2 separate regions of the Homo sapiens genome follow, and region 1 is linked to region 2. The links come from fine-mapping of genetic effects on gene expression. A gene starts in region 2. The other region holds a variant in brackets. All regions are shown on one strand. Distances are from middle to middle.

Region 1 (9,136 bases), 34 kb after region 2:
TACTTCCAGGAAATTTTTTTTGGTAGTTCTTTTGGATTTTCTCCGTAGACAATTATGTCATCTATGAAGAAAAACACGCTGGGTGTGGTGGCTCACACCTGTAATCCCAGCACTTTGGGAGGTCAAGGTGGACAGATTACCTGAGGTTGGGAGTTCAAGACCAGCCTGACCAACATGGAGAAACCCCATTTCTACTAAAAATACAAAATTAGCCAGCCGTGGTGGGACATGCCTGTAGTCCCAGCTACTTGGGAGGCTGAGGTAGGAGAATCACTTGAACCCAGGAGGCAATGGTTGCAGTGAGCCAAGATTGCACCATTGCACTCCGTCCTGGTCAACAAGAGCAAAACCTCGTTTCAAAAAAAAAAAAAAACAAAAAAAAAAAACGGACACAGTGGCTCACACCTGTAATCCCAGCACTTTGGGAGGCCAAGGCGGGCAGATCACAAGGTCAGGAGTTCAAGACCAGCCTGGCCAACATGGCGAAACCCCCATCTCTACTAAAAATACAAAAATTAGCTGGGCATGGTGGCACATGCCTGTAATCCCAGCTACTTAGAAGGCTGAGGCAGGAGAATTGCTTGAACCCGGGAGGTGGAGGTTGCAGTGAGCGGAGAGTGCACCACTGCACTCCAGCCTGGGCAACAGAGCAAGACTCTGTCTTGGGGAAAAAAAAAAGAAAAACAGGCTTATTTCTTCTTTGCTAATCTGTATACCTTTTATTTCCTTTTCTTGCCTTATTGCATTAGCTAGGACTTCCAGTATGAGTTGAAAAGCAATAGTGAGAGGAGGCATCATTACCTTGTTCCTGATCTTAATGGGAAAGCTTTGGAGTTTCCTATCAGTTAGCTATAGGTATTTTTAGACATTCTCTATCAAGTTAACAAAGTTCCCCTCTATTCCTAGTTTTCTGAGAGTTTTTATCTTGAATGGGTATTGGATTTTGTCAAATACTTTTTCTGTATTTATTGATAGGATCATTTGATTTTTCTCCTTTAGCCTATTGATTGGATGGATTACATTAATTGATTTTTGAATGTTGAGCCTGCTTTGAATACCTGGGATAAATCCCATTTAGTTGTGGAGCATTATTCTCTTTATATGTTGTTGTATTCAATTTGCTAATATTTTCTTGAAAATCTTGCATCTCTGTCCATGAGAGATATGGGTCTGTAGTTTTCTTGTAATGTCTTTTTCTGGTATTGGTATGAGGATAATGCTGGCCTCATGGAATAAGTCAGGAAGTATTCTCTCTGCTTTTGTCTTCTGAAAGATTATAGATAATTGGTTTAATTTTTTCCTTAAATGTTTGGTGGGATTCTCTAGTGAACCGAACCCATCTGGGCCTGGTGCCTTCTGTTTTGGAAGGTAATTTTTGTTTGTTTGTTTGTTTGTTTGTTTTTCGGAGACAGAGTCTCACTCTGTTGCCCAGGATGGAGCACACTGGCATGATCTCGGCTCACTGCAACCTCTGCCTCCCAGGTTCAAGCTATTCTCCTGCCTCAGCCTCATGAGTAGCTGGGATTACAGGCACCTACCACCACGCCTGGCTAATTTTTGTATTTTTAGTAAAGACACAGTTTCGCCATGTTGGCCAGGCTGTTCTCAAACTCCTGACCTCCGGTGAACCACCCACCTTGGCCTCCCAAAGTGCTGGGATGACAGGTGTGAGCCACAGAGCCCAGCCGGAAGGTAATTATTTATTTATTCAGGCTGGGTGCAGTGGCTTACGCCTATCATCCAGCACTTTGGGAGGCCAACACGGGCAGATTGCCTGAGTTTGAGACCAGCCTGGGCAACATGGTGAAACCCTGTCTTTACTAAAAAAATACAAAAAAATTAGCCATGCTTGGTGGCGGGTGCCTGTAATCCCAGCTACTCGGGAGACTGAGGCAGGAGAATCGCTTGAACCTGGGAGGCGGAGATTGCAGTGAACCAAGATTGCACCACCGTACTCCATCCTGGGCAAAAGAGTGAGACTCTGTCTCAAAAAAAAAATAATAATAATTCAATTTGTTTAATAGATTTAGGCCTATTTAGATTATTTCTTCTTTTGTGAGTTTTAGCAGATCGGGTCTTTCAAGGAATTGTTCCAGTTCATCTAGGTTATCAAATTTGTGGACATAAAGTTATTCATGGTATTCTTTGATTATCCTTTTATTATCCATGGGATCTGTAATGATGTCCCATCTTTCATTCCTGATTTTAGTAATTTGTGTGCCCTCTCTATTTTTCTTAGTTAGCCTGGCTAGAAACTTGTTGATTTACTGATCTTTTCAAACAACCAGCTTTTGGTTTTATTGATTTTCTTTATTGATTTCTTGTCTTCAATTTTATTGATTTCTGCTCTAATTTTAATTATTTCTTTACTTCTGCTTACTTTGGATTAAATTTGCTGTTGTTTTTCTACTTTCCTAAGATGAAACTCAGATGATTGACTTTAGATCTTTTTCTTTTTCTTTTTTTTTTTTTTTTTTGTGAGGGAGCCTCGATCCGTCACCCAGGCTGGAGTACAGTGGCGCAATCTCAGCTCACTGCAACTTCCGCCTCCCAGGTTCAAGTGGTTCTCCTGTCTCAGCCTCCCAAGTAGCTAGGACTATAGGCACGCACCACCGTGCCCAGTTATTTTTGTATTTTTAGTAGAGACGGGGTGTCACCATATTGGTCAGGCTGGTCTCGAACTCCTGACCTCCAGTGATCCACCTGCCTCTGCCTCCCAAAGTGCTGGAATTACAGGCGTGAGCCACCATACCCGGCCTAGATCTTCTTTTCTAATATATGCATTTGATGCTATAAATATTCTTCTAAGCACCTTTTGCTGCATTCCACAAGTTTTGATAAGTTATGTTTTCATTTTTATTTTGTTCAAAATATTTATAAAGTTTTCTGGAGATTTCTTCTTTGATCCGTGTGTTATTTAGAAGTGTGTTTTTTAATCTCCAAGTATTTGGGGATTTTCCAGCTACATTTCTGTTACAGACTTTTAGTCTAATTTCATTGTGGCCTGAGATCAGACATTGTATGGTTTCTAGTCTTTTATATTTAAGGGGTTCTGATGCTTACTATTTTTCTTCAGATTGTATTTTTGCCCTTTAGTATGTCTTGTAATTTTTCCTCGATAGCTGGACATGAAGTACTATGTAAAAGGAACTGTGGTAAACAGGCCTGTATGAATGTGGTGGTGAGGTGGTGGGGGACAAGAATCCTTCTGTAGTCCTGTGATTGGGTGTCAATCTTTTGGTGAGCCGGTTCCTCTGGACTGGGAACTTCCCACACGCTTCTCAGAATTTTCCCCTTCCTAGGTGGGACAGGATGACCAGAAGGTGCTGCAGTTTGGTATTTCACTTCCCCTAGGTCAGTTAAGAGTCTGATAAAACACTTTCAGGTTAGGCTGTAATTCAGTAAGTTTCTCCTGAGGGTAGACCTTGTTAAGAAAAACTGGAGGCTGGGCGCAGTGGCTCACGCCTGTAATCCCAGCACTTTGGGAGGCCGAGGCGGGCGGATCACGAGGTCAGGAGATCGAGACCATCCTGGCTAACACGGTGAAACCCCGTCTCTACTAAAAATACAAAAAAAAAATATTATCCAGGCGTGGTGGCGGGCGCCCGTAGTCCCAGCTACTCGGGAGGCTGAGGCAGGAGAATGGCATGAACCCGGGAAACGGAGCTTGCAGTGAGCCGAGATTGCACCACTGCACTCCAGCCTGGGCGGCAGAGCAAGACTCCTTCTCAAAAAAAAAA[A/T]AATAATAATAAATAAATAAATAAATAAATGAAAATAAAATTATATTAGAAGACATAGACATAGGCTGCTGTCCAAGTAATTTTCTCCCCAAACCCAGAGTAATAAGGACTTCCCTCTGCCTTCTGGGCTTCTTCATTCAGCCATGGCACCTTGGCTGAGAGAACGGCCCGCCCTCTTTACTCCTCCCCTCCAGATGAAGCCAAGGAGGAGTTCCTGGATCTGCTTGATGTGTTGCTGCCCCATGCCCAGACATATGTCCCCCGGCTGGTAAGGATGAAGGTGTTCCACCTCAGCCTGTCCCAGAGTGTGGTTCTGCGCCACCACTGGATCCTCCCCTTCGTGCAGGCTCTGAAAGCCCGTATGACCTCCTTCCACAGGTGAGTGCTTCTTCCCTCTGCCTCTCCACTCCCTCCCCTCCATGGCTTCTCCTCCTCTCCTGAGCTACTGCGGGCATTACCCCAGCAGGCAGGCAGACCTAAAGATAGAACACGGCCCCTCTCCTGGGGCTGCCTGCTCTACTTCTCATCCTCCGTGACCTTGGGCATGCCGTGGAAGCTCTTGACACCCCTGATGCCGTATCTGCTCTGTAGGAAAAGCCAGCTGTTTTTCTGTAAGCTCTTGCTCAGTACTTCCAGCACTTCTGTGACCAGATGTGTTGAGTTTTTTTCCACACCAACAAATTATCCAACTCTCCAGACACCCACTGGGTGTCCTATAATCGAACTCAATTCTGACACTAATAACCCAGGGTTAGTGCAGACTTCATAGGTTAAGGACTCAGTCCCACAAGACTGCGCTCCTTGTCAGACACCATCTGCAGTGTTGAGCTCTCAGGTTACCCACAACATCTGTCTGATTTCACTACAAATCAGAGGTTCTGTGGACCCTCTCCTCAGGTTTGATCATTTGCTAGAATGGCTCACAGAATTCAGGCAAACAGTCCACTTACTAGGGCGCCAGTTTATTACAAAGGATATGTTACAGGATACACATGAACAGCCAGATGAAGAGATAGGTAGGGTGAGGTCTGGAAGGGTCCCGAGCATGGGAGCTTCTGACCCTGTGGAGTTGGGAGTGAGCCACCCTCCCAGCACATGGGTGCGTTCTTAATCACCAAGGGAAGCTCCTCAAACCCTGTAGTTCCAAATTTTTACGGAGGCTTCATCACATAGGCATGATGGATTATTAACTCAGTCTCTAGCTTCCCTCCCATACCGGGAGGGTAGGGGGTGGGGCTGAAAGTTCCCAGCTTCTAATCATGCCTTGCTCTTTCTGTGATCAGCCCCCATCCAGGACCTCATTGCCTCATTGGAACCAAAGATGCCCCTGTCACCCAGGAAATTCCAAAGGATTTAGGAGCTCTGCGTCAGGAGCCAGGATCACAGACCAGATAATAGAACAAAAGATGCTCCTAGCACCCCTGCTGCTTAGGAAATGACACAGGTTTTAGGATCTCTGTGTCAGGAACTGGAGGCTGAGACCAACACATATGTTATCATTTCACAGTGATAGGTCAAACAGGTCATGGTAATGGTGGGAGCTACCTCACTGGGGGCCTATGGGGGTGAAAGGAGATCATGGGTGCCCTCAGCACACCACTTGGGTGAAGGGTTAGTACCAGACCCCACTTCTGGTTTTGTCTGCCAGCCTGGGGCTTTTTTTTTCCCCTTACCTATTAGATTATTTCATAACTCTTTTCCTACCAGAAATGCATCTCCTGCTAGACTGGTCCAGATCAAAACCCTGCTCTTTCACTGAGGCTCTCCCGGTTGGCATATCCTGCAGAATCCCTCCGTCCAGAGATCAGTCGGTCCTGTGGTTGTTTCACAGGTGACTCCTCTGTCCAGAGATCAGTCGGTCCTGTGGTTGTTTCACAGGTGACACCTCCGTCCAGAGATCAGTTGGCCCTGTGGTTGTTTCACAGGTGACCCCTCCATCCAGAGATCAGTTGGTCCTGTGGTTCTTTACCCCTGGTGGTCATTTCACTCACCCTCATATGCAGTCGTTCCTGTGTCCATCTTCCTTCCTGGAGCCCACATTCCTCCAGGCCAGGACTGTGGCTTCTCTCTGAATTGCCCCACAGCTTTTTTCCAAGTGCTCTGCTCACAGTAGACATCAAATAGATGCTTGTTGAGTCATGGTGCGGGAATGAGGGAGCCTAGAGAATATCTTTCTGGATCCTCTACTGTTGATACTAGAAGGAGCCTAAGAAGCCACCCGGCTGATGGTTTTCTGACCCTGCCTTTATCAGCAGAGCCTTTTTTCAAATGAGGTGTTGCACAAAAGCCTGATGTGTGGCTGTGTAAAACAGAAATAAACAGTCTTCTAGCCAAAGCCCCATTCCCACAGTTCAGGGGGCCATAGGCCCAGGAATTCCATAGGATGTCACTGCCCAACTAGGAAACTGCTCAGTTAGCTGAACCCCTTCTGAGGGCCAGAGGAGGACAGGATTTGTCCCAATCCAGACACTCGGCCAGGGAATAAGGGCTGAAACTCATCTCTCAACCTAGTCCAGCCCTCCCCCTCTTTGGATTGTCATTATCAAGTTGATTGATTGTATATTATCAGGACTCTCTTAACCACAGGTGCCAGAAGCCCATGCCAGAAGCCCAACCCAAAGTGGCTTAAACCAAAGAGAAATTTATAGGCTGGTATAACTAAAAGATTCAGAGGTAGCACTGGCTCATGCATGAGTGGACCGGGGTGACAAGATATCAGATGGCACCTGACTGTCACCACCACAGGCAGACTGTTCACCATCTCAGCTCTGTCCCCTTCCTTTGTCACAATGACGAAGCCACCGCATCTCCCGGCTAATGGTGTACCAGCCTGGAAAGACAGCCTCCCTCTCTGATTGGCTTCAGCACAAGTCACAGGAATGACTGCCTGGTCTGACCCGTCTCCTGTGTGCTTTCTTTGGGAGTAAAGAGTTAACAGGCCCTTCCCCCTTCCACAGAGAGTGCTTCCCTTATCCTGCGGAAGCTCTGCCCCTGGATGAAGGAGGAGAGCGGCTATGTTAGTGCTGATGACTGGCACACTGCACTTGCGCTAGGAAGACAGCATGAACTGCACCCCTCCAGGGAAGCCACGGCCTGGGCTCCCCTGCATACAGTGGTTCCTTAACTGGGCACGAGTCCCTTGCTGGGACTTAGGAAAACTCTGCCTAAAGTCCATTGCAAGAAATACTGATCCCTGTGGGATGTATATGTGGCTGGTTCCCTTGCTCACTGAGAGACTAGAAAACAGCACCTGGACCCCTGGGCTGGTTCCCTCTGAGGAAAGGATCTGTGTCATGAGTGAAGCCCGGGCAGGTGTGGTCTGTTCAACTTTGATCATCTGGTTGAGCCTAAGGTGACCAAGAGTGGGCGGTGCACCCCTGATTCTGTTGCTGTGACTGAGGAAATGCTAAGCTCTGTTTGGCCAGGCCTGGGCAGCCTGCCTCTGGAGTAGGGGTGGAGAGCCATCCTGCAACACGAGGTTACCAGGAGAAGGAGTTTTGGTTGGGCACAGACATCCAGTGTCCACTCCAGGATGTTTGGGAGACACCTTGAGAACTCTTCCTAAAAGCTGCACTTAACCAAGCTCCTGGTGGTTCTGTGATCCCTTACATTTTCTCCAGAGGCAGAGAGTTGGCTGACTGACTTTTGCCCTTGGGCAGATTGTGAGGCTCTACCCAGCATGCTGGTATATTATGTTCCCTCAGATGGGGGTGAGACCCTTGGCCTGGGGGCTGTAAAATGATCTGTTTCTGTGAGGAGACTTTCCATGGTGAGATTGCTAGTGTCTCAGAGAATAAAGGACAGAACCAGTCCAAGTCAAAGCACTTACCTAGCTGAGCCTGACTCTTCCCGTGTTATTGATCTGAGGGGTGGGTGGGTGGGGGCATCTGTCTCGATTTCACACCAACAGACCTATTCCCCTCACGAAAGCGTCATAGGTGACAACAAGGACTCTGGAAACAGGCAGACTGACTGTTCCAATCCTGGCTCACCAAATTCAGCTTCACCATGCCTCTGTTTCTTTGTCTGTAAAATGGGCATAATTGTAGGCCTGCTCACAGAGTTGTGTGAGGATTCGAGAAACAGAGTGTGCAAAGGCTTGAGCTCAGCCCTGACACACGAAGAAATGTTGTCGTGATTGCTTAGATGAAATCGGAGTCATCTATTTTAAAAAACTGCAAGAAATGAATCAGCTGTTAAGTGGTCCATTATCACCTACTTGATCAATAAGGCTTTCTCAGTTCCCATCAGTGAAGTTGAGATAGTCTCAAATTGTTTATCGAAATGAACTGCTATTAACAAAGTAAAATTTTTACTAGCACCTGGATGATGTTGTGTGTTACTCGGGCTGGGTGATTTTAAGGTCTTGTCCAGCTCTAATGTTTAAGGTTCAGTATACCACCTGCATAATGGGGTGATAATATGAAGTGCAAAATGAGTTAACTATATTTTCAAAGTGCTGTTTTTTTTTAACATAAGCTATTTTTTCTGCTTTTTTTCTTACGATTTTTCCTGAAATATGGTCTTCTAAATTTCAGATTCTTCTTTACTGCCAACCAGGTAAAGATTTACACCAATCAAGAGAAAACCAGGTGGGTCCTCCCAACCCCCAATCACCATCAGAGGAAGATTCTTTGGTGCAAAAATTGAGTGCTTTGTTTCTGGACTTGTTTGTCCCATTTTTTGTTTGCTTTTAACCAACTCTATGACTATAAAGGCAGCTATCCCCAAATCTGAACCTTTCTTTAAGAAAAATAACTGGGAGATCCCAGGCACAGTAGCGCATGCCTGTAATTCCAGCACTTTGGGAGGCTGAAGCAGGTGGATAGCTTGAGCTCAGGAGTTCCAGACCAGCCTGGGCAACATGGCCAAACCGTGTCTCTATGAAAAATACAAAAATTAGCTGAGCATGGTAGTGTGTGCCTGTAGTTCCAGCTACTTGGGAGGCTGAGATGGGAGGATCGCTTGAGCCCTGGAGGTCGAGGCTGCAGTGAGCCAAGATTGCACCACTGCACTCCAGCCTGGGCAACAGAGTGAGACCCTGTCTCAAAAAAATAAAAGGCCAGGTGCGGTGGCTCACGCTTGTAATCCCAGCACTTTGAGAGGCCAAGGTGGGCAGATCACCTGAGGTCAGGAGTTCGAGACCAGCCTGCCTGACATGGCGAAACCCCATCTCCACTAAAAATACAAAAAATTAGCTGGGTGTGGTGGCAGGCGCCTGTAATCCCAGCTACTCGAGAGGCTGAGGCAGGAGAATCGCTTGAACCCTAGAGGAGGAGGTTGCAGTGAGCCAAGATCACACCACTGCACTCTATCCTGGGTGACAAGAGTGAAACTCTGTCTCAAAAATAAATAAATAAATAAATAAATAAATAAATAAATAAATAATGACTGGA
Region 2 (9,157 bases):
GGGGAGCCTGGAGCTTAACGGGTGCAGGGGAGAGTGGTGGGAGATGAGGTTGACAGAGGGCAGGGGCAGATGTTGTGAGACTGTAAGCCACAGGAAGGAGTGTAGTTTTAGATGATGGTTTTGAACAGGGGCTGGGCATGATCTGTGTGGCTCTGTGTAGCAGGCAAGCATGGAAACAGGAAACTGGTCAGGAGGCTGCGGAGGGACAAGCTGATTGGTGACTGGATGACCCCTGGCTTCCCCTCCAGTGTTGGGCTTCAAGACCTCTGATAATGCAACCTCTACATGGCAAGTGATTCACAAGAAAGTTCTTTCTGCCAGCAAGGCCAGACCCCAACGGTAAAGCTCAATGTACTCCCTGACCCTTCCCTACAAATATGCCAGGCTGCAGGGGTCAGAGCTCCTCCCCAAGGAACAGCAGCAAGCCCTTCTGCTCTGCTTGGGCCTGAGACTAACACAGGTGACATTCGCCCTTGCCTGCAGCCTGACGGGAGGGATGATGGGGCTTGGACTATGCTGGTGGGAGTACAGATAGAAGGGAAAGGGGAGGAAAAAGGCGGGCATTGAGGGGCTCACCCTGGGAAACTGGGTAGCTGGTTTAGTGGGTGAACCAGTAAACCGCCCCAGGCTGGTTTACACATGTACTGAAAAGAAGAAGCCTGAGGCTGGAAGTTTGGAGGAAGAATTTTGGAGGGAAAATCATGAGCACTACTTTGTTAAGATGTCTGAGAGAGGCTGGGTGCAGTGGCTCACGCCTGTAATCCTAGCACTTTGGGAGGCCAAAGCAGGTGGATCACCTGAGGTCAGGAGTTCAAGACCAGCCTGGCCAACATGGCAAAACTCCGTCTCTACTAAAAATACAAAAATTAGTCGGGTGTGGTGGCAGGTGCCTATAATCCCAGCTGCTCTGGAGGCTGAGGCAGGAGAATTGCCTGAACCCGGTGGGTGGATGTTGCAGTGAGCCAAGATCACACCACTGCACTCCAGCCTAAGCAAAAAAAAAAAAAAGTCTGAGAGACATCCAGGTTGAAATGTGTGTGTGTGTGTGTGTGTGTGTGTGTGTGTGTGTGAGACTTAGGGAGAGGTCTACAGGAGATAGAAATTTTGGAGGCCTCAGCTTGCAGATGATGCTTAAAGCCACAGGACTGACTGATATCACCTCGGAAACCCAAGGAAACAAAGATGACCAGAGGTGGCACCTGGAACACGGGCTCACTCAGAGGATGCAAAAAGAGCAGGAGCTGGTAAAGGAGCCTGAAGGAGCTGCCAGGGATGGGGATGGAGAAGCAGAAGCATGGGGTGAGGTGAAAGCCAAGAGTAGTGGCTGTGTTGGGGTGAGGGAATGATCCAAGGGGCCACTGTCTGAGCTGAGACTTGAAATGCGTCCTGAGATTGGGCAACTTAGAGGCAGTTGGAGCCCCTGCAGAGTGGGAAGGAGGGAAAATTAGATGAGCCTGAGGGAACAGTAGTGGGCTCTAGGGTGGGGAAAATGAGCAAAACACAGCCACACACAGTGGCTAAAGTTTGGATGAAACTCATGTGCATATATATGGAGAGAAAGAAGCCAGATTCAAAAGAAGACCCCAGTGATCCATGCATACAAAATTCCCAAAAGGCAAAATTAGTCTGTCCTGTCTATGGCTACAAACACAAGTACATTTGCCACCTCTAGTTTTCTATAAAGCCTAGAGTTGTTAAATAAAGTTTTCCATAGTTGCCCATAAATAAAAGCACAGGTTGTACTACAAGATGGGAGAGTGGTTCCTTCTTGCTGGGTTGGGGGTTGTAATTGGGAAGGTGTATGTGGAAGCTTCTAGGGACTGGCAGGGCCAATGTCTTGCTTTCTTTTACTAACTTGGCTGGCATCTATTTTTCAAAACAAGCTTATGGGAATATATATGCCATAAAATTCACCCATGGTAAGTATACAACTCAATGACTTTTATATTACTTATTATTTATTTATTTATTTAAGACAGGGTGTCACTCTATCACCCAGGCTGGAGTGCAGTGGCGTGATCATAGCTCACCGCAGCCTCGACCTTCTGAGCTGAAGTGATTATCCCACCTCAGCCTCCCAAGTAGCTGTGACCACAGGCACATGCCACCATGCCCATTTAATTTTCATATTTTTTGTAGAGACAGGGTTTCGCCATGTTTCCCAGGCTGGTCTCGAACTCCCGGGCTCAAGCAATCCACCCACTCGGGGTTCCCAAAGGGCTGGAATTACAGGCGTGAGCCACCGCCCCGGCCTAACTCATGATTTTTAACACATTGACTGAACTGTGCAACTCTTGCCACATCTGGTTTTAGAACATTCCCGTTGCCCCAGTAAGACCCCTCACACCAGATGATAACCACTCTTCATTCGTACACCCCAGTCCCAGGCAACCACACATCTGCTTTCTGCGTCTATAGATTTGTCTTTCCTGGACATTTTATATAAATGGGTCATACAATATGTGAGTTTTCACATCTGGCTTCTTTGATGTAGCGTAATGTTTTATGAGGTTCATCCACCTCGTAGCTTGTATCAGAACTTCATTTCTTTTCATTGCCCAAGAGTATTGCATGGTATAGACGCACCACAGTTTATCCACTCATCAGTGGACACAGGTTGTTTCCACTTTTTGGCGATACATCATGTTGCTATGAACATTTGTGTGCAAGTCTTTGTGAAGATATATACTTTTTTTTTTTTGAGACGAAGTCTTGCTCTTGCCGCCCAGACTGGAGTGCGATGCTGCGATCTCGGCTCACTGCAACCTCCGCCTCCCAGGTTCAAGCGATTCTCCTGCCTCAGCGTCCTGAGTAGCTGGGATTACAGGCTTGCACCACCACGCCCAGCTAATTTTTGTGTTTTCAGTAGAGACAGGTTTTCACCATGTTGGCCAGGCTGGTCTCAAACTCCCAACCTCAAGTGATCTGCTCACCTCAGCCTCCCAAAGTGCTGGGATTACAGGTGTGAGCCATCGTGCCTCACAATATACTTTCATTTCTCTTGGGAAGCCTCCTGGGGTAGAATCTTCCAGATGACCCAATCATATGGTACATTTCTGTTTCATTTTTTAAGAAACTGATAAACTGTTTTAAAAGTAGTACTCCATGTCTTGACCAGGGTGGGTGGTAGTTATACGGGGTCTCATTTTGTAAATTATTAGTTACATTAGATATTTATTCACTTTCTGTATTTCTTCTATTTTATAACTTTAAAAGAGTCAAGAAATAAATTGGGGGTGGGGTGGTGAGTGGAGTCAACTCTGGGAAGGTTTTTTGTAAGGGGTAGCAGTTAGGAATGCTGTTCTGGAAGCTGTATGGAGCACTGGAGGAGGAGCAACTGGGGAAACAAATCCTACAAGAATTTCACAGGAGGGGCTCCAAGACCCATCAGGTTCAGCCCCTGGGCAGGTATATGCAAAAGCACATGCCAATATATGCAAATAAGTTAGGATCTCCTGGGGTTTCCTCACCTTGGGGGTCTGTCTCTAATGGTTGTGACCAGGATGGTGGGCAGGCCCCAGGGCTTTGGGGTGCTGGCCTTGGGCACTCACAGCCTGGCTTTTCTGGGAGCCTGCAGTCCTGCAGGGGCTGAGGGTGGAGTATCATCTGCTAATCCCTGGCCTGCTGAGTCCACCACTCTCCCTGATCCCCTCACGCTTACCCTGGATACTGGCCACAGCTAATCTCCACTCCTGGAGACTCAAGGGCTGGCAGACAGTGCAGTGCCCTCTTCCCTGAGGGTTCCAGGGAGGGGAGATCCCTCTCAGCATCCAGATCCTCCTAACGGCAGATCCTAGAGTCCTTGCCTAACACAGAGGAGAGCCTTGAGTCCCAGAGAGAGGCGGTAATTAGCCCAGGATTACACAGCCTGCAGTGGGCTCAGTAGCCATTTCTGGCCTGCCTTGGCCTGACTACCTCCAGGGAACCCCAGCTCCCCATCTGACATTTCCCAAGATGCCTGGCCTGTGCTAAGGCCTGGGAGACCACAGCCTTCAGGAAGGCTGGAAGGGAGTGGCCAGAGCACAGGAATTCTGGCACAGGCTCTTGTTAGAGCCTGTAGTTGCCAGGGTTGCTAAGGAGTGGGTGCCTCAGAATCAGGCTGCAATGGGCATTGTCTGTGCACAATGTTCCTTTATTCTGCTGCTGTCCATAATAAGGGCTCGTCCACCTCCCTTCCTCTTCTGCCCATTGAGCAGTCAAAGAACTGAAAGTCCTTATAAGCCTGTGCACCTGGGCCTGGGCCCTACAGATAAGGTAGCTGCTATTGGTGAGTCAGAAGCAGGGAGCCCTTGCTCTCTTCCCCATATCCGTGATCCCCCTCCCTGTCCCTCCCCAGGCAGTCACATCCCCTAAGGCAGCTTCCCCATGCCTTGTCACCATGCCCCCTCCCTGCTCCTCCATGATCTAAGGTCCTCTCTCCTCCTGCCACCCTAGCTTCCACCTCCACCTCTCACCTCTAACTCAGGGTCAGGAAGAAAGCAAGCTGTCTCAACAAATTCTCACTAAAGTGTAAATGACTGAAAGGCTCCTGGGACTATCTGCTTTTTAAAGGGAGGCACTGGGTATCCAGTAATGCTTTTCTAGTTTAAATATATCATGTTGCTCCCCTTCCTGAAAATCTTTCTGAGTCAATCTGTAGAATTTTGGGTAAATAGCTAGGGCAAGTCCATAATTATTCACCCAGAGGTATACGGCATACTAAGCTACATTCTGAACCCGCTTGCTGCTGCACTTTCCTGCTTATTATTTAAGAATAGACTCGCCAGGCAAGGTGGCTCACACCTGTAATCCCAGCACTTTGAGAGGCTGAGGCGGGTGGATCACTTGAGGTCAGGAGTTCGAGACCAGCCTGGCCAACACAGTGAAACCCCGTCTCTACTAAAAATACAAAAACTAGTCACATGTGGTGGTGGATGCCTATAATCCCAGTTCCTCAGGAGGCTGAGGCAGGAGAATCACTTGAACCCAGGAGACAGAGGTTGCATTGAGCCAAGATGGCGCCACTGTACTTCAGTCTGAGCAGAAGAGTGAGACTGTCTCAAAAAAAAAAAAAAAAAGAAAAGAAAGAAAGAAAAAAAAACGAATAGACTCAAATACCACCTCTTTTAGACCATTCCTTGAATGTCCTAACCCCAGCCTCCCCAGAAACACACACTCTGTACTGACCTCCCTCACAGCCATGGCACAATGTGAGTGTGTGTGTGTGTGTGTGTGTGTGTATGTGTGTGTTGGAAGGGGAGTGGGAGGGTTGTCTCTGTTATCTTCTGTTATCTGAATGTTCCTGCCACCTCATGCTGAGCTCCAGAAAAATGGCCTGGCACACAGTAGGTGCTAAATAAATGTTTGGCAAGTAGACATCGGCACTGGCCAAGGTTGTTTTCATGCAGAGAAGGGTGTCTGGCCAGCATGAGCCCAGGGTGAGCCCCTTAGAACCCTCTGCCCCCCAGCTATGGCCCGCATCATTGACCTGGTGCCCTGGGACGATGGCTCCACACATGTGTATGCCTCCCCGGCCATCCTGCTTCCCATGGAGCGGCAGCGCAACCAGCTGGCGGGCGTGAAGCAGCAGCTCTACCACCCAGCCCTGCCCACCCTGCGCCACATGGACAGGGACACCGTCAAGGCCTGCCTTCCTGATGAGCACTGCCAGTCCACCACCTACTGCCGCAAAGGTTAGGACACCAGTGTAGGATCCCCTTTGGGGAAGGGGCAGATGGTTTCAGGAAAGAGGGAGACAGATGCAAGGATGAAAGAGGCCAGTCCCAGCTCTGCTGCTCCCTGCCCAGGACACTTTGGCCAGGTCTGAGCCTCTGTTTACTGCTCAGTACAATGAGGATAATTGACAAGGCCTACCTCAAAGTGTTGTTGTGGGGTTAGAAGGAGATAAGGCACAAAAAACACTTAGAGGCTGGGCGCAGTCCCAGCACTTTGGGAGGCCAAGGCAGGCTGATAACCTGAGGTCAGGAGTTTGAGACCAGCCTGGTCAACATGGTGAAACCCCATCTCTACTAAAAATACAAAACTTAACCAGGCGTGGTGGCAGGCACCTGTAATCCCAGCTACTTGGGAGGCTGAGGCATGAGAATTGCTTAAACCTGGGAGGCGGAGGTTGCAGTGAGCCGAGATCACATCACTGCACTCCAGCCTGGGCAACAAGAGTGAGTCTCCGTCTCAAAAAAAAAAGCACTTAGAGTAGTGCCTGGCACATAATATGTGCTCAAAAAGTATTGCTGATGCCATTGTTGTTATTGTTGTTTTGTTTTTTGAAGACAGTGTCTTACTCTGTCGCCCAGGCTGGAGTGCAGTAGCATGATCACAGCTCACTGCAACCTCGACCTCCCAGGCTCAAATGATCCTCCCATCTCAGCCTCCCGAATAGCTGGGACCACAGATACGTGCCACCCTGCCCTGCTGATTTTAAAAAATTATTTGTAGAGACAGGGTCTCCCTATGTTGCCTAGCCTGGTCTCAACTCCTGGGTTCAAACGATCCTCCTGCCTTGGCCTCCCAAAGTGCTGAGATTACAGGCATGAGCCACTGTGCCTAGCCTGTTGTAATTAATGGAGAGAGAACTGGGCAGAGGTTGACAGGTGCAGTGGTAGGAGTCATAACAGTAGTAACTTCTGCCCAAGCATCTCTGTATGTGGAAAAGAGAGAGAAAGACCTCTCCTCACAGCCCCCATGCAGGAGAGGAAGACGTGTGGGCCTTCAGGGCAAAAGAGCCCCACGGGCCTAGTGAATAACCCCGCATGGACTGAGGAGCTTGCGTGTGGAGGGATTTAGAAGGTATTTAGCAGATAAAGTCAACAGGAGTAGGTGCAGGCGGGGCAGGGTAGGAGGCCAAACAGGGGGAGTGCAGGCCCATACCTAGGCTCCAGCTTGGGTGACAGGTGGGCTGAGGGTGTCAGAGACCGCACGGAGATTACCAGAGTTGCCACATGGGCCCTAATGGGAAACACAAGTGAGGGAAGTGGGTGGGGAGGCCGTGGGGAAGGAACACTCCACAGGGAAAAGGGGCACCCACACCTGCCCTATTTAAACGGCAGCCACGGGGTTCCCCACAGACTGTGCTATGTTGGAGGGGCCAGCCAGGTCACCAGTTCTTCCAATTTCCCGCTTCTGAGAGAAGCCAGGAATCTAGATTTTTAAGGAAAGCTCTGATGTAGATATGTATTTTATTGTAAGCATATGCTTTAAGTAAAAGTAATAGTCAGAACTTCAAAGCTCAAAATGCTATAACAATATGCACAGCAACAAGGCTCACTCCCACTGCCCCCGCATACAGGTAACCACCCCCCCACCACATTCTTAGTTTCTGATGTCTCTCCCTGGTTTACTAATGGGAATATAAACACATGTTATTTTGCTCCCCAACTTTTTATTACTGTTAACTGAAAACCCAGAAATTTGTAAATTTAGGCAGGGTACGGTGGCTCACACCCACAATCTCAGCACTTTGGGAGGCCAAGGCAGGCAGATCACGTGAGGTCAGAAGTTCGAGACCAGCCTGGCCAACATGGTGAAACCCCATCTTCACTAAAAATACAAAAATTAGCCGGGCGGGGTGGCGGGTGCCTGTAATCCCAGCTCCCAGGCTGAGGCAGGAGAATCACCTGAACCCGGGAGGCGGAGGTTGCGATGAGCCGAGATGGAGCCACTGCACTCCAGCCTGGGTGACAGAGCGAGACTCCATCTTCAAAAAATAAAAATAAATGTATAAGTTTAGAAAAGGAGACTTTATTTCTTACAAGGGGTTATAGCTGCCAGGTGGCCATCCCACAGGCTGGAAAGTGTGCCTCCAGCTTAAGCCCAAAGATAGGCATGTCAAAGGAGGAGGGGTTGGGTAAGAGCTTTATGTTCAAAGGGTTGGCTAAACATACATATTCAATAGTTTATAGGAGGAGCTATGAATATTCATGAAGATAGTACTGACATGGGCATATTGAACAAACATGCATGTAACATACAACCCATGTTCGCTTTGAGGTGGAGACTTAACCTTTAAATGTATTACAATTAGTCCCTATACGTCAAAAGTTCTTTTCAGGACGCGAAGCCCAGCAAGTGAGCAGCCTCTGTATGCTGGGCAGGACCAGTCCATGGTTGGTGGTCTTCTTACCTGGAGAAAGTTACTGAAATCAGCCTCTTATGCAATCAAAGGCATAGCTGTGGCTGGTGGATCAGGGGGTCAGTTCATCAGCATCTGTGAGCTGTATGAGTTGTAATTGTTTTAATATTGCTTATCTCAAGTCCAGGGCTAGAGAAAAAGAAAAACCTCATGGCAATTAAAACATAGCTTATTTATTTTTGTGTTTTGCTTTTCGTTTTGTTTTGTTTTGTTTTTTTAGACAGAGTTTCTCTCCATCACCCAGGCTAGAGTGCAATGTCAAAAACATGGCTCTTTACAGCCTCGACCTCCCAGGTTCAGGTGATCCTGCCACTTCAGCCTCCTGAGTAGCTGGGACTACAGGCACACACCACTATGCCAGGCTATTTTTGTTGCTGTTGTTGTTGTTTGTTTGTTTTGTGTGGAGACAGGGTTACACTATGTTGCCAGGGCTGGTCTCCAACTTCTGGGCTCAAGTGATCCTCCAGCTTCAGCCTCCCGAAGTGTTGGAATTACAGGCGTGAGCTACCACGACCAGCCTGTAGTTTATTCTTTAAGTGTAGGGGTGCGTGACTTAACCCTTGCCTGGCATGGCCTTAGGTCCTGTTAATAATCTGGTATCTTGGCCGGGCGTGGCGGTTCACGCCTGTAATTCTAGCACTTTGGGGGGCCAAGGCAAGTGGATCGCCTGAGGTCAGGAGTTCAAAACCAGCCTGACCAATATGGTAAAACCCTGTCTCTACTAAAAATACAAAAATTAGCCAGGTGTGGTAGTGTGTGCTTGTAATCCCAGCTACTGGGAGACTGAGACAGGAGAATTGCTTGAACCCAGGAGGCGGAGGTTGCAGTGAGCCGAGATCGCGCCATTGCACTCCAGCCTGGGCAACAGAGTGACACTCCGTCTCAATAATAATAATAATTATTATTATTATAATAATAATTATTATTATTATTATTATAATTTGGTATCTTATTGCCACAAAGAGTCTGTTCTCTTAGTCTTGTAATCTCTCTCTCTCTCTTTCTCTTTTTTTTTTTTTTTTTTTTTTT

What was found. PIP is the estimated chance that this variant, and not a neighbour inherited with it, causes the effect.
Region 1: its variant is fine-mapped to the expression of SPMIP8 in whole blood (TOPMed, PIP above 0.99).

Annotation. Positions count from the first base shown.
Region 1 is chr16:58,005,995-58,015,130 of GRCh38, forward strand. It overlaps USB1 (U6 snRNA biogenesis phosphodiesterase 1), which reads left to right. Exons shown (of 7, transcript NM_024598.4): 3 at 3,935-4,118; 4 at 8,279-8,332. Among named protein-coding and RNA genes, the nearest start is that of USB1, 9.2 kb to the left of the region's middle. RefSeq lists enhancers at 6,217-6,749, 6,750-7,281. The variant A/T (reference allele first, on the strand shown) is at 3,741.
Region 2 is chr16:57,972,368-57,981,524 of GRCh38, forward strand. It overlaps SPMIP8 (sperm microtubule inner protein 8), which reads left to right and starts at 4,177. Exons shown (of 8, transcript NM_199456.3): 1 at 4,177-4,267; 2 at 5,448-5,672. The coding sequence starts at 5,450.